Regions from separate parts of the Homo sapiens genome. Here region 1 is linked to region 2. The links come from fine-mapping of genetic effects on gene expression. A gene starts in region 2. The other region holds a variant in brackets. All regions are shown on one strand. Distances are from middle to middle. Region 1 has its middle 140 kb from the start of RHOU. Region 2 holds the start of H2AC25 (H2A clustered histone 25).

Region 1 (2,918 bases), 420 kb after region 2:
AAAAAATAGCAAAAGAAATTATCAACAGAGTAAACAGACAACTTACAGAATAAGAGAAAATATTTGCAAACCATTCATCTGGCAAAGGCCTAATTTCTAGAACCTATAAAGAACTCAAACAAATTTACAAAAAAAAAAAAAAAGACAAATAACCTCATGAAAAAGTAGGCAAAGGACATGAACAGAACTTTTCAAAAGAAGACATACATATGGAAAAAACTCAATACCACTTGTCACTAGAAAAATGCAAATCAAAAACACAATGAGATACCATCTCACACCAGTCAGAATGGCTACTATTAACACGTCAAAAAATAAAAGATGCTGGCAAGGTTGCGGAGAAAAGGGAACACTTATACACTGTTGGTGGGAGTGTAAATTAGTTCAACCATGGTGAAAACCAGCATGGGAATTCCTCAAAGAGCTAAGAACAGAACTACCATTTAACCCAGCAATCCCATTCCTGGGTATATACTCAAAAGAATAGAAATCATTCTACCATGAAGACACATGCACGTGAATGTTCATTGCAGCACTGTTCACAATAGTAAAGACATGGAATCAACCTAAATGCCCATCAATGACAGATTGGATAAAGAAAATGTAGTACATAGACACATGGAAAACTATGCAGCCATAAAAAAGAATGAGATCATGTCTCTTGTGGGAACATGGATAGAGCTGGAGGCCATTATCCTTAGAAAAGCAATACAGGAACAGAAAACCAAAGACCTCATGTTCTCCCTTATAAGTGGAATCTACCTGAGGATGGAGAGTGGGAGGAGGGAGAGGATCGGAAAAAAAGACTATTGGGTACTAGTCTTAGTGCCTGGGTGATGAAATAATCTGTACAAAAAACCTCTGTGACATGAGTTGACCTTTATAACAAACCTGCACATGTATTCATGAACCTAAAATATAAGTTTAAATATTGTTTTTAATAAAACCTCTTTAATACCCACAATATTCAGCACTTGCTTCTGGTCACCAAATGTGTGTGGTTTTTCCCACACCAAGCAAGTCTCCAATTCTCTGTGGACTCCAGCTGGGTATCCTACCATTCAATTCAATGCTGACGCTGTCTGTACGTAGAATTAATGCAGACCCTATAGGTTATGGGCTCAGTTCTGCAAGGCTGCCCACCCCCATTAATTCAGACACCAGCCACAAGTCCAGTTGACAGCTGGGCTTCTGATGAACCAGCTATAATTTGGAAGATCCCCCTCACCTCCTTCCCAGGTTCAATAATTTGCTAGCACAGCTCATAGAAAACAATTTACTTACTAAATCACAAGTTTATTATAAGACTACAACTCAGGAACAGCCAGATAGATGAGCTGCATAGGGCAAGGTATTGGGGAGGGGTGCGGTGCTTTCATGCATTCTCCTGGGTGTGCTACCCTCCCGGTATGTGGATGTGTTTACCACCTGGAAGCTCTGTGAACCTCATTCTTTTGGG[T/A]CTTTAGGGAAATTTTATTGATTGCATCATTGGCCATGGTGATTAGCTCAATCTCCAGCCCCTCTCCCCTCCCCAAAAGGTAGGGGTGGGGATGAAATTGCATCTCTCTACACGGTTGGGTCTTCTGGCAACTGATCCCCCATCCTTTGGGCTTTTCAAAAATCACCTCGTGAACAGAAACAGTGTAATTGGAAGGGACTTGTTATGAATAACAAAAGGTGTTCCTTTCACCTTTATTGCTCTTATCTCGTAGGAAATTCCAAAAGTTTTAGAAGCTCTACACCAGGAACTGGGATGAAGACCAAATATATTTCTCATTATAAGTCACAATATCACAAGGCATTTTAAAACATATCGTATTAGTAGGGAATATGAGGTAGAGTAAGTCCAATAGGTTATGAGATGATCACCTTTGGATGGAGAGTTTACTACTCACAGTTCCAAGAGGAAGGATCATGCCATGAATGGGGTGGGGGCACCGAGGAGGATTGGTCGGGAGGCAGAAGGAGCGAGGGAAAAACAAGGGCAAGAATCTTTAGTGTGGTTTCCATGGTAAGTAATGGGTGATGCAGTGTAATTAGGCTTAAGAATGGCTAGTTTGAATAATTTCCGTGGACTCTGGGGCATAGGGGCTGGCCCTAATTGTCTGATACCTGGCTCCAAGGTGATTAAGACAGGTGGATATGATCCAGTGTCCCCAATAAAGAAGGCAGTGTGGGTGTGGGCTCTGGATTGGTTGGTTTGTTATGAAAGGTGTGCTCACAGACAAGTTGTTTATTATCCCTAAAAATTGAGTAACCTGACAGGGGCAGTCCCGCCATGGTCAGCAAGACCCCAGGTATCACGGCATCAGAATACAGAAAATAAGACATGGGTAATACAGCTGGTGACTAGGAAACACATTTTATGTTTTTATCTCTAGTGTCTGGTCTTAGCAGTCTACATAAATATTATGGAATAATTCTAAGTCAGTGTTTCTCAAAATGGGGCCTACAGAGCATTTATATCAAGCTCATTTGATGAGCTTGTTAAACACATAGATCCCTGGGCCCCTGCCATAGACATGACATCTCAGCACCTCTGGAGATGCTGGGTCCTGGAAATCGGTATATTGGCAAGTTCTCTGTGTGAAACCTGTGTCCACTCTGCCTTGAGAACTACTGTAGTGTCTTATCGATCTCTTCTCCATGCTGGCCCATCAGTCGGCTCTGAGTTCAGAGGAAGGCTTAGTTAAACTCCCAAGAACTTGAGCAACTTTCCCAAATGGAAAGCACCAGTCTCTCATCTCCACATCCCTGGCTCAGTTTGAGAGAATTACTTCTGGAACTGTCAGGGGCTTCCTAGAGCACTGAGACAGAAACAACTTTCCTGTCTCAATTAAGTCAGGTGAGGGAGTGGGTGATGGGGAAAGAGAACTCTACTCTGGGCTGCATTTGGAGCTGTAGAAAACCAAGATATG
Region 2 (2,875 bases):
ACTGGGATATTTTCTAAAGACATGCAGATTTGTGGTTAGCTGGTGTCCAGGAAGCCCTGACTTGAGTAGACCCAATTTTAGTAGGGTAAATATAAATTATATAATATTCCTGAATAATTTTACTGGCCTGTATTTATTATTACAATAAATACTTAATAATTGCTAATTACCCTGATCTGATAATAAATGTATTCAAAGTATCACTATGTACCCCATATAATATGCAATTGTTAGGTGTCAATTAACTAAATACTAGCACTTTGGGGATTAAAGAAAAAATAAAAACAAAGTAGGAATTATCCATATTTTGAGAAATAGATTAATGAAAACTGTACAGATAACAACAGAAGAATAACACTTTCTGAGCTCTGATTTTGTGGCAAACATTTTTTAAGGGATTATCGTGGATTAAATCAATGAACCTCTCTCCTCCAGGATTTAGGGGCTATTAACACAGCCATTTCAGTTAATTTGCCTGGAGGTCTCCGACGCTCTTAAACCCTCCATTTTATAAGGAAAAATGTAGTTACAAACCGTTATTTTCCTAAAGTCCACATGTATCATCATTCATCTGGTTCTAACAATACTCATTTTAAATTTGCTTAACTCGCAAATTTAGTTTTCCTTTTCAAAAACAGTGTACAAATTATTTTGTTCTCCAATTTTAGCAATCAATTTAAGGGGATCTTTGATTAATGTTTGACCAACCCGAATTAAACAAACTAAATTCCTTTAAATAATTATCCTATTCCAAATTAAGTCTTCTTAAAAGGTTTATACCTTTCAGCATCTACTAATCTGGTTCCTTTTAAGTACTGAAACTTTCCTCATGACCTTTAGAATTCCCAGCCAAATAAATTAAATCTTAACACTGGTGGAGCTCACATTGTTAAAACTTAGCAATTTAAATAGAAATCCATAGACTTACTCTTCAGAATTAAAGTGCAAACTACTTAGAGATCATAAATACTTTTAATATCAGATAAATCATTAAGAAATTGCATTCTGTACTTGATGACCACACGGGAACCTTGCTAGAGTCAAGAGAACTTGTCACTAGTAATTATGAAGACACCTTTACGGTGAGCGTTATTAAAACCCTACTAGAGGTTTTGGGTGGGACTCAAGAGCAAGGGGTGGCCACCTGTGGACGAGGGTTCCCTGTTGTTAACAGAACACGTTGCCCACCTCGCAAGTATGCAGCCCAATCAGTCCCCAGGGTCTCGGTTCCCGTTGCGCCCTTCCCCATGGCCACTGCGCTCATTCATGAGCCTAGGGTGATCAGGCCTCCGGCCTATAAAGAACTGCAGGATCAGTGCGGCTCTTTTCTCGAGATAGTAGGTGGCTCTGAAAAGAGCCTTTATGTCCATCAAAGGGGCCCCGGGGGCGGCGGGCGGCCTCACTTGCCCTTGGCCTTGTGGTGGCTCTCCGTCTTCTTGGGCAGCAGTACGGCCTGGATGTTGGGCAGGACGCCACCCTGCGCGATGGTCACGCGGCCCAGCAGCTTGTTGAGCTCCTCGTCGTTGCGGATGGCCAGCTGCAGGTGGCGCGGGATGATGCGCGTCTTCTTGTTGTCGCGCGCCGCGTTGCCGGCAAGCTCCAGGATCTCGGCAGTCAAGTACTCGAGCACCGCGGCCAGATAGACCGGGGCGCCGGCGCCCACGCGCTCCGAATAGTTGCCCTTGCGGAGCAACCGGTGCACGCGGCCCACGGGGAACTGCAGCCCCGCGCGCGACGAGCGCGACTTAGCCTTGGCGCGCGCCTTGCCACCCTGCTTACCACGACCGGACATTTCCGAGTCAAGGAAAAAAGACAACGGCAACCGAAAAGCGAGACTAAAAACAAGAGGGCAGTGAAGGCCAGCGAGCCCTTATGTATGGTACAGAGGTAGGCTAGACCGCGGCGTTCGATTGGATGGCTATGGTAGCCAATCAGAAAAAGAACCTGGCACTCCTAATTTGCGTATTCCTTTCCCAGCGATGACGTAGAACAACGTTTGATCCAATCAGAAGTGAGCAAATCCTGAGCCTTCATTTGAATACAAAACGTACAAATAGAGTTACTCCGAGCGCCGCGCGTTTCTGTTTGGAGAGACTCAGCCATCATGCCAGACCCGTCCAAATCGGCTCCTGCGCCCAAGAAGGGTTCTAAAAAGGCTGTCACCAAGGCACAGAAGAAGGACGGCAAGAAGCGCAAGCGCGGCCGCAAGGAGAGCTATTCTATCTACGTGTACAAGGTGCTGAAGCAGGTGCACCCCGACACCGGCATCTCGTCCAAGGCCATGGGCATCATGAACTCCTTCGTCAATGACATCTTCGAGCGCATCGCCAGCGAGGCCTCCCGCCTGGCACACTACAACAAGCGCTCCACCATCACGTCCCGCGAAGTGCAGACGGCCGTTCGCCTGCTGCTGCCCGGCGAGCTGGCCAAGCACGCCGTGTCCGAGGGCACCAAGGCTGTCACCAAGTACACCAGCTCCAAGTGAGGCGTTCCTCGGCGTCCTGAACCCAAAGGCTCTTTTCAGAGCCACCCACACGATCAAGAAAGGGTTTCGAACACGGTGAAGGGTTATGTAACCTAATGTGTCTCCATGCACCCTAGCGGTTGCCGGGTGCGGCCGAATCTGAGCCGTGTGTGTGTGTGTGTGTGTGTGTGTGTGCGCGCGCGCGCCGGCACAGAACGAGAAAAACTGCTCGTTACAGAAATCGGGGTAGAAACTGCTCAGGTGATGTAGCTCAGTAATGTTGGGAGGCGATCAAGGACCCCCTCTCCATCCCCTCCCTCCGCGCAGAGCTATTAACTCACGACGAGATTTCTTTTTTTTTTCTTTCTTTCTTTTTTTTTTTTTTTTTTTCTAGAAGAAGTCTCGCTCTGT

Evidence for each region. PIP is the estimated chance that this variant, and not a neighbour inherited with it, causes the effect.
Region 1: its variant is the best candidate, but not a certain one, in a credible set for the expression of H2AC25 in whole blood (TOPMed, PIP 0.73).

The regions. Positions count from the first base shown.
Region 1 is chr1:228,878,700-228,881,617 of GRCh38, forward strand. No RefSeq gene overlaps it. Among named protein-coding and RNA genes, the nearest start is that of RHOU, 140 kb to the left of the region's middle. The variant T/A (reference allele first, on the strand shown) is at 1,460.
Region 2 is chr1:228,456,026-228,458,900 of GRCh38, forward strand. H2AC25 (H2A clustered histone 25) reads right to left here and starts at 1,848. Exons shown (of 1, transcript NM_033445.3): 1 at 1,339-1,848. The coding sequence starts at 1,792. The coding sequence ends at 1,400. H2BC26 (H2B clustered histone 26) reads left to right here and starts at 2,078. Exons shown (of 1, transcript NM_175055.3): 1 at 2,078-2,533. The coding sequence starts at 2,105. The coding sequence ends at 2,485. RefSeq lists enhancers at 1,971-2,557, 2,558-2,875.